Linked DNA regions of Homo sapiens: region 1 is linked to region 2. Evidence: fine-mapped expression QTL. A gene starts in region 2. The other region holds a variant in brackets. All regions are shown on one strand. Distances are from middle to middle.

Region 1 (5,373 bases), 69 kb after region 2:
AAGATGGGGAAAAAACAGAGCAGAAAAGCTGAAAATTCTAAAAATCAGAGCACCTCTCCCCCTCCAAAGGAACGCAGCTCTTCTCCAGCAACGGAACAAAGCTGGACCGAGAATGATTTTGACAAGTTGAGAGAAGAAGGCTTCAGATGATCAAACTTCTCTGAGCTAAAGGAGGAAGTTCGAATCCATCGCAAAGAAGCTAAAAACGTTGAAAAAAGATTAGACGAATGGCTAAATAGAATAACCAGTGTAGAGAAGTCCTTAAATGACCTTATGGAGCTGAAAACCATGGCATGAGAACTACGTGACAAATGCATAAGCTTTAGTAGCTGATTCGGTCAACTGGAAGAAAGGGTATCAGTGATTGAAGATCAAACGAATGAAATGAAGCGAGAAGAGAAGTTTAGAGAAAAAAGAGTAAAAAGAAATGAACAAAGCCTCCAAGAAATATGGGACTATGTGAAAAGACCAAATCTGTGTCTGATTGGTGTACCTGAAAGTGATGGGGAGAATGGAACCAAGTTGGAAAACACTCTGCAGGATATTGTCCAGTAGAACTTCCCCAACCTAGCAAGGCAGGCCAACATTCAACTTCAGGAAATACAGAGAACGCCACAAAGATACTCCTCGAGAAGAGGAACTCCAAGACACAAAACTGTCAGATTCACCAAAGTTGAAATGAAGGAAAAAATGTTAAGGGCTGCCAGAGAGAAAGGTTGGGTTACCCACAAAGGGAAGCCCATCAGATTAACAGCGGATCTCTTGGCAGAAACTCTACAAGCCAGAAGAGAGTCGGGGCCAATATTTAACATTCTTAAAGAAAAGCATTTTCAACCCAGAATTTCATATCCAGCCAAACTAAGCTTCAGAAGTGAAGAAGAAATAAAATCCTTTACAGACAAGCAAATGCTGAGAGATTTTGTCACCACCAGGCCTGCCCTACAAGAGCTCCTGAAGGAAGCACTAAACATGGAAAGGATCAGCCGGTACCAGCCACTGCAAAAACATGCCAAATTGTAAAGACCATTGATGCTAGGAAGAAACTATATCAAGTAACGAGCAAAATAACTAGCTAACATCATAATGACAGGATCAAATTCACACATAACAATATTAACCTTAAATGTAAATGGGCTAAATGCTCCAATTAAAAGACACAGACTGGCAAATTGGATAAAGACTCAAGACCCATCAGTGTGCTATATTCAGGAGACCCATCTCGCGTGCAGAGACACACATAGGCTCAAAATAAAGGGATGGAGGAAATTCTACCAAGCAAATGGAAACAAAAAAAGGCAGGGGTTGCAATCCTAGTCTCTGATAAAACAGACTTTAAACCAACAAAGATCAAAAGAGACAAAGAAGGCCATTACATAATGGTAAAGGGATCAATTCAACAAGAAGAACTAACTATCCTAAATATATATGCACCCAATACAGGAGCACCTAGATTCATAAAACAAGTCCTTAGAGACCTACAAACAGACTAAGACTCCACACAATAATAATGGGAGACTTTAACACCCCACTGTCAGCATTAGACAAATCCATGAGACAGAAAGTTAACAAGGATGTCCAGGAATTGAACTCAGCTCTGCACCAAGTGGACCTAATAGACATCTACAGAACTCTCCACCCCAAATCAACAGAATATACATTCTTCTCAGCAACACATCGCACTTATTCCAAAATTTACTTCCAAAATAGTTGGAAGTAAAGCACTCCTCAGCAAATGTAAAAGAACAGAAATTATAACAATCTCTCAGACCACACTGCAATCAGACTAGAACTCAGGTTAAGAAACTCACTCAAAATCGCTCAACTACATGGAAACTGAACAACCTGCTCCTGAATGACTACTGGGTACATAATGAAATGAAGACAGAAATAAAGATGTTCTTTGAAACCAATGAGAACAAAGACACAACATACCAGAATCTCTGGGACACATTCAAAGCAGTGTGTAGAGGGAAATTTATAGCACTAAATGCCCACAAGAGAAAGCAGGAAAGATCTAAAATTGACACCCTAACATCACAATTAAAAGAACTAGGGAAGCAAGAGCAAATAAATTCAAAAGCTAGCAGAAGGCAAGAAATAACTAAGATCAGAGCGGAGCTGAAGGAGATAGAGACACAAAAAACCCTTCAAAAAAATCAATGAATCCAGGAGCTGGTTTTTTGAAAAGATCAACAAAATAGATAGACCACTAGCAAGACTAATAAAGAAGAAAAGAGAGAAGAATCAAATAGATGCAATAAAAAATGATAAAGGGGATATCACCACTGATCCCACAGAAATACAAACTACCATCAGAGAATACTATAAATACCTCTACGCAAATAAACTAGAAAATCTAGAAGAAATGGATGAATTCCTGGACACATACACCCTCCCAAGACTAAACCAGGAAGAAGCGGAATCCCTGAATAGACCAATAACAGGCTCTGAAGTTGAGGCAATAATTAATAGCCTACCAACCAAAAAAAGTCCAGGAGCAGACGGATTCACAGCCGAATTCTACCAAGGTACAAGGAGGAGCTGGTACCATTCCTTCTGAAA[G/C]TATTCCAATCAATAGAAAAAGAGGGAATCCTCCCTAACTCATTTTATGAGGCCAGCATCATCCTGATACCAAAGCCTGGCAGAGACACAACAAAAAAAGAGAATTTTAGACCAATATCCCTGATGAACATCGATGCAAAAATCCTCAATAAAATACTGGCAAACCGAATCCAGCAGCACATCAAAAGGCTTATACACCATGATCAAATGGGCTTCATCCCTGGGATGCAAGGCTGGTTCAACATATGCAAATCAATAAATGTAATCCAGCATATAAACAGAACCAAAGACAAAAACCACATGATTATCTCAATAGATGCAGAAAAGGCCTTTGACAAAATTCAACAGTCCTTCATGCTAAAAACTCTCAATAAATTAGGTATTGATGGGACGTATCTCAAAATAATAAGAACTATTTATGACAAACCCACAGCTAATATCATACTGAATGGGCAAAAACTGGAAGCATTCCCTTTGAAAACTGGCACAAGACAGGGATACCCTCTCTCACCACTCCTATTCAACATATTGTTGGAAGTTCTGGCCAGGGCAATCAGGCAGGAGAAAGAAATAAAGGGTATTCAATTAGGAAAAGAGGAAGTCAAATTGTCCCTGTTTGCAGATGACATGATTGTATATTTAGAAAACCCCATCGTCTCAGCCCAAAATCTTAAGCTGATAAGCAACTTCAGCAAAGTCTCAGGATACAAAATCAATGTGCAAAAATCACAAGCATTCTTACACACCAATAACAGACAAACAGAGAGCCAAATCATGAGTGAACTCCCATTCACAGTTGCTTCAAAGAGAATAAAATACCTAGGAATCCAACTTACAAGGGATGTGAAGGACCTCTTCAAGGAGAACTGCAAACCACTGCTCAACAAAATAAAACAGGACAGAAACAAATGGAAGAACATTCCATCCTCATGGATAGGAAGAATCAATATCATGAAAATGGCCATACTGCCCAAGGTAATTTATAGATTCAATGCCATCCCCATCAAGCTACCAATGGCTTTCTTCACAGAATTGGAAAAAACTACTTTAAAGTTCATATGGCACCAAAAAAGAGCCCGCATTGCCAAGTCAATCCTAAGCCAAAAGAACAAAGCTGGAGGTATCACGCTGCCTGACTTCAAACTATACTACAAGGCTGCAGTAACCAAAACAGCATGGTGCTGGTACCAAAACAGAGATATAGACCAATGGAAAAGAACAGAGCCCTCAAAAATAATACCACACATCTACAACTATCTGATCTTTGACAAACCTGAGAAAAACAAGACATGGGGAAAGGATTCCCTATTTAATAAATGGTGCTGGGAAAACTGGCTAGCCATATGTAGAAAGCTGAAACTGGATCCCTTCCTTACACCTTATACAAAAATTAATTCAAGATGGATTAAAGACTTAAATGTTAGACCTAAAACCATAAAAACCCTAGAAGAAAACCTAGGCAGTACCATTCAGGACATAGGCATGGGCTAGGACTTCATGTTTAAAACACCAAAAGCAATGGCAACAAAAGCCAAAATAGACAAATGGGATCTAATTAAACTAAAGAGCTTCTGCACAGCAAAAGAAACTACCATCAGAGTGAACAGGCAACCTACAGAATGGGAGAAAATTTTTGCAGTCTACTCATCTGACAAAGGGCTAATATCCAGACTCTACGAAGAACTCAAATTTACAAGAAAAAAACAACCCCATCAAAAAGTGGGCAAAGGATATGAGCAGACACTTCTCAAAAGAAGACATTTATGCAGCCAACAGACACATGAAAAAACGCTCATCATCACTGGCCATCAGAGAAATGCAAATCAAAACCACAATGCAACACCATCTCACACCAGTTAGAATGGCAATCATTAAAAAGTCAGGGAACAACAGGTGCTGGAGAGGATGTGGAGAAATAGGAACACTTTTACACTGTTGGTGAGACTGTAAACTAGTTCAACCATTGTGGAAGACAGTGTGGCGATTCCTCAAGGATCTAGAAATAGAAATACCATTTGACCCAGCCATCCCATTACTGGGTCAAAGGATTATAAATAAATCTGCTATAAAGACACATGCACATGTGTGTTTATTGCAGCACTATTCACAATAGCAGACTTGGAACCAACCCAAATGTCCATCAGTGATAGACTAGATTAAGAAAATGTGGCACATATACACCATGGAATACTATGCAGCCATAAAAAAGGATGAGTTCATGTCCTTTGTAGGGACATGGATGAAGCTGGAAACCATCATTCTCAGCAAACTGTCACAAGGACAAAAAACCAAACACCTCATGTTCTCACTCATAGGTGGGAATTGAACAATGAGAACACTTGGACACAGGAAGGGGAACATCACACACCAGGGCCTGTCGTGGGGTCGGGTTAGAGGGGAGGGATAGCATTAGGAGATATACCTAATGTAAATGACGAGTTAATGGGTGCAGCACACCAACATGGCACATGTATACATATGTAACAAACCTGCACGTTGTGCACATGTACCCTAGAACTTAAAGTATAATAATAATAAAAATATGCCCAAAGTCTGTCCTCATGGAGCTTGGCAACCTAGATGAGGACATGGGCAAGAAATAAAGTGCTCTATAATATCACAGCAATTAATGCTATGAAGACATGCAGAGCAAAGGAGTAGCTGGTGACCAGAGGGTGCTATTGTAGTTAGAATTCTTAGGAAATCATTATAAATTTTTTCTTTGCATTTACATATTAGCATTGCCAACAGGATGCCTAAGAGTTGTGGGACCCATCAGTCTTACTCCTTTTCTGCTTAGCCTCATTTAGT
Region 2 (5,373 bases):
TTACCTGTATAGAAGGTTACTCACTCTGGTAAATAAATATCTTTCATAGTAAAAGCATCATCAGATTCCAGAGTCATGAATTAACAAATTGTGCCAGTCTGCTGTGTTTCTTCCTTTATCCATTGGTAGTCAGGAAGGTGCAAAGGGTGTGGTGGTTATAACCAACAGTCTAGACTTATTAATTTATGCTTATTTTTTGCTACAAAAGTGGCTCTTTGGTTAACTCCCATGACATTTAACTGCCAGCCACCAGCAGGCTACCCACTTCAGTCCTCATTCTACCTGCCTTACCTAGACAATTTTATTTATTCTCATCATTTCAATGGTTAACCACTGTTATTTCCATGATTGTAAGATACACCATTAATTTAATAATACCTGGGGGTGGGTGAGGTGAGAAGAATCTCTATCATATTAAATACACAACATCTATTGTAAGCTTATCCTTACACTCCACAGCTAAAGACCTACCAATTTTTCAAGACTCGTTGCATAGTCATCCCCTCTGTGAAGCTTTCTCTGACAGCCTCCTCCTGGACTGGCCGCTCCCTTGTGGTGTCACAACTCTACCTTGCATATGCAATCACAATGCACAAAATGTCGACTCCTCAAGGGCAAGAACTGTCTGCTTCATCCCTGTACCCCCAGGATCTAGCCCAGTGTCTGCCATTAATTCACTCTATAAATATACATTGGGACCTACCATGTGCTAGGCACAGTCCCTGACACACATTGTTTATTAAACAAAAGAATTTTTAAAACATCTACTCTGCCATAAGGTGGGATACAAGGTGAAAATGTGACAGCCTCTTAGGCCCATGCATTATTAGACAGAGATGGGGGTAGTGTATACATTTTGCTAAACTGAATGTGACCAAGTGCCACAATGTGTGGTTCAAACATTAAGCGTTCTGGGTGGTTAAGAAAAGGAAAGATGGAGGATGAGCTGAAATCTGAGCTTCTGAAGGTGCCAGGCCTCACATTTCTCTGAAGCTCCACTACCTTCCAAGGCCTAACATTAGGCTTGAATTCAAGGTTGATTGAATGAAATTGGGAAACTTCCCTGCGAGATTCTAGGGAAGAATTGGGATGGGGAAGAGAAAGGAATTACAGTGTGTATGAACAGAACCAGGAAAGGCTTGGCGGCAGAAATAAATTTTAAAAAAATTATTGTGTAAAATGTACATAGCACAAAATTTACCATTTTAACCTTAAAAATTTTTTTTTAGAGACGGTGTCTCACAATGTTGCCCGAGTGGTCTCAAACTTCTAGCCTCAAATAAAAAAAAAAAAGAAAGAAAAAAGAAAAAGAAGAAAAAGTGCCAGCCCAGTGGCTCAGACCTGTAATCCCAGTCTTTGGGGAGGCCGAGGCGGGAGAATCGCTTGAGCCCAGGAGCTCGAGACCCGCCTGGCCAACATAGGGAGACTCCAGTGTCTACAAAAAATAAAAACAATTAGCGAGAGTGTGGTGGCACACATCTGTGGTTCCAGCTACTTGAGAGGTGGAGGTGGGAGGATTGCTTGAGCCTGGGAGGTCAAGGCAGCAGTGATCCCTGATCGCACCACTGCACTCCGGCCTGGGTGACAGATCCTCATTTTGAGACCCTGTCTCAAAAATGAAAGAAAGAAAGAAGACAAAACAAATAAAAACTCCTGGCCTCAAGCAACACCATCCCTGCCCCCCGCCTCCCCCTGCCCCCCCAACCTCAGCCTTCTGAGTAGCTAGCATTACAAGTACCAGTTACCAGGCCTGGCAATTTTAAACATTTCTAAGTGTACCATTCAGTGGCATTAAGTACAATAACGTTGCACCACCAGGAATGAATTTTTAAGTCTCTTTCCAAAGATACCTGGCTAATCACACATTTGATAGTGGGGAAATAAGAAACATTTGTTGGTTGAAAGACGGATGCATGAGAGTAAAAGCAGTGTTCTTCCCCAGTGTGGGCAGTTTCCGCATAAGCATCTGCGATCCGTTTTGCATGTGAATGAAAGCCCAGTGACGGGCAGTGGGCACCAGTGCTGCTCCTTGCGTGTTTGAATCATGCTTGCTAAGTTTCAAGCAAGGAATGCTCCATTTCTCCCAACCAAGTCGGGCCTTTTGTATTCAAATCAAAAGCACAAAACTCTATTGTAGGGGGAAAAATGAGTCTTTATTGGCAATCAGTGGTGTCCACTTAGAGCAATAAATATTAAGTCTTAAGAGTACATTCTATATGAAGTACTATAGCTATTAATACACTTGGGTTTTGTTTGTTTTTTAAATGGGTGTCTTTGTGGGGTGCTGTTCTAATCAGTGCCACAGGCGCCGAGGAGAGGGAGGGAGCTGGGTAAGGAAGGAGACAGGCCCACCCTAGCCACCGGGGAGTGGGCAGAGTCAGGAGAGCGGGGTTCTGATTTTGCCCCTTCCCTGTGAATCCTTGGGCACCTCACCGAAACACTTAAGGCCTCTGTATGGTAGAGGTTGGAATCCGTGGCCTTTAAAAGTCCTTTCAGCTCCTTCGCTCCTATCTGCATAATTTTTGGCATAGGCCAAGCGGCTGGTTGGTGGGGTGTTTAGCTCAGGACGAGAGGCCGAACGAGCGGGGAGTTGGCTGAGGATAGACTAGACACGCGTGGGTGACTCCAGCGTGATGGAACGCGGGGTGTCCCGGGATAGGGCTAAAGCGATGGGATTTCCAGACGAGTCTTTCCCAGGCCAACTTTTAAAGGTCGGAGGAAAGTTTCTCGTGGGGTGGGGGCCCAGAGGGGATGGCAGGGTGGGCTCCGACGCCTCCTCGCCTTTAAGCGGGTGGCCCCGGCTCTTCCTCCGTTACCTGGAGCGGGGAGGGGCTTGGGAAAGTTTGTGTTTGTTGCTGGCAAAGCGCCGGATGGGAGGCGCGGGCGGGCGCTGCGGTTCTTCCCTTCTGCTTTCGGGAAGCGGTCGGGGCTGCACACTCGGATCGGCGGGGCCGGCTCCCGGGCCCGGCCGGCTGGAGGAGGGAGGGAAGGAGGCGGGAGGGAGCGAGCGGAGCCAGGGGCGCACGTACGCCCCAGCGCTGGGATTTATCGGCTCGCGAGGAGAGCGGAGCAGGCGCGCGGCCCAGGCGGAGGAGCGCCGACTCTGGAGCAGCCGGAGCTGGAAGAGGAGGAGGAGGAGAGGCGGCGGGGAAGGAGGAGGAGGGGGAGAGTCGCTCCCGCCGGGCGAGCATGGGGCGCCTGGCCTCGAGGCCGCTGCTGCTGGCGCTCCTGTCGTTGGGTGAGTGTGCGCGGGGCTCAGCGGGGCACACGGGGACTGGCGAGGCCCTGGAGGGCTCGGCGGGGCGCGGCTGCAGCGCGCGGCCTGGGGCGCCGAGGGTGCCCGGGCTGCTCCCGGGAAACCCGGCCGGGGTGCGCGGGTTGTTCGGCCCGGCGGGGAGCGGCCGCGGGGCCGCCCGGAGCCTGGCGCGAATCCGCTCGGGCCCCGCGCGCGGGGTGCAAGTGGCCGCTCCGCCAGGCCGAGCCTCGCCCCCAACATGTGCCGGGGGGAGTGGCCCGGGGCCGTCTTTCCCCCAGGTCTCCCTACCTGTTGGCCGCCGGGAGCCCGGCTCACCTTGAACTCCCGGCCCGGAAGGTGCTGCGGTCCCGGCCCGGGTCCTCGGCTCGAGAGCGGAAATGTGAGCCTTTGATATGCCCCGCCATAGCCGCCGCCGGCCGGGTCGCTCTTCACCCAACCCGCGCGGAGTTGCCTTTCCAGGGAAGCGAGAGAATCCTCCAACTTCCTTCCACGAAGGTCACAGGGTGGCCCGGAGCGTTACAATGGAAATCGGCGGGCGAGTCCTGCCGTCATTTTCGTCGTGGCTAGATCTTCTGCCTCAGTCTTTTCTTTTAGCTTTTCTTGAAGCTGCCTAGCTGCGTATTTATACACAAAGACCTAAAAGCCTGGCTTCTCCAACTTTTTCTACCTGTTACTTTCCCTCCCTTACTATCCCCTCGTCTTCCACCCTCCGGAAACCCTGGGTGCCCCGTGAGGTTTTGGCCCAGCGCCCTCCCCCCACCCAAGGAATCTTTTGTGGGTTTTTTCCCTCTCCATTTTCCATTCACTCCATACACAGACACCATCTTCACGTAGATCCACATGGTGATCCTAGCCAGCCACGGAAATATGTTTATTAAGTGCCCACCATGGTACCCCAGGGCCGACTCTTAAATGTTTTGATATTCTTGGATCCTTGTTGTCAGTGTCAACCAGGACAAGATGATTCCTGTGACCTGGCCTGGGGTTCTCTTCCAAGCCCCTAGAGAAGGCGGCTCTGAGTCTTTCACAGAGCGCATGATGTGCGGTGTCCGTGCCATTCAGGTCCCAGCTGCACACAGGGCAAATGATTACTCTGCACTTATGGTCAGAGGGTTCCAGAGGAGGCCTTCTATAGCTACTCCCCTGCTGGGGACACCGGGGCCCACACTGCTGTAACCCCCATGACTCCTGCTGCTGATGAACCAGCCTTGCTGGCTGCTGTGTTTTCTTCCTTCACCTTGAAGGGATTTTCTGAACTGACTCCCTCAGAGAGCTCGTCCAGCCACATTGCTTCAGCTTCAGCCCATGTGCAGAAAGCTTCCAGATCTTCCACTTAGTTTTATGGCATCTTTTCTATAGTCCCTGATCCTAGTGCTTTATTTTTATTTTTGAAACAAAGCCTCAGTCTTTCACCCAGTCTGGAGTGCAATGGCACAACCACAGCTCACTGAAGCCTCAAACTCCTGGGCTCAAGTCATTCTCCCACCTCAGTCTCCTGAAGTGCTGGAATTACAGGCATGCTCCACCACACCCGGTGGTAGTGCTTTTAATCTTTACTTTTCACTCTGGGACCCTTGTAAGTTGTATGTTAGTGGCGCACTGCTGTTATAGTCCACACACATTAATTGACTTTATGTGTCTGGGTCAAGCAGGGCCATGGCCTAGGTTTGCACAGATGGTGCACTGTACAACTTCGGGAGCTGCTGTTCACTTTGTAGTCTGTGTGAATAACTCCCCCTAGAGCTGTGCAGTTCTCTGAACAACCTGGGTACCAGTTATGAGGGTGGGATGAGGTAGAACTTTGAAAACAATGCCCTTGAGTAATAATGAAGGGAGAAGAGGGGAGGGGGCAAAGAGAGACTGACAAAAACAAAATAGAAGTGGGGAAAGCACAGCTTGGGGAAATCTTGATTGTACTCCAGCATATCCTGTCCTGGCTGGATGCCTCCTATGAATTACACAGGGAATTTCTGTGGTGTCACCAGCCAGTACCTTTTCACCTAACAGTTCTCTGAACCATTGATGACCCTCCTGATAACTCTGCTGTCACAGAATCTCACTCGGTGTGGCTTCAGCCTGACCTCTGGGAAGGTCTCGCTGTGTTACACTGCTCTGGC

The links. PIP is the estimated chance that this variant, and not a neighbour inherited with it, causes the effect. A credible set is the group of variants that fine-mapping cannot tell apart.
Region 1: its variant is the best candidate, but not a certain one, in a credible set for the expression of PTGFRN in monocytes (TOPMed, PIP 0.55).

The regions. Positions count from the first base shown.
Region 1 is chr1:116,975,763-116,981,135 of GRCh38, forward strand. All of the region lies in intron 7 of PTGFRN (prostaglandin F2 receptor inhibitor), which reads left to right. Among named protein-coding and RNA genes, the nearest start is that of CD101, 23 kb to the right of the region's middle. The variant G/C (reference allele first, on the strand shown) is at 2,563.
Region 2 is chr1:116,907,015-116,912,387 of GRCh38, forward strand. PTGFRN (prostaglandin F2 receptor inhibitor) reads left to right here and starts at 2,902. Exons shown (of 9, transcript NM_020440.4): 1 at 2,902-3,238. The coding sequence starts at 3,190.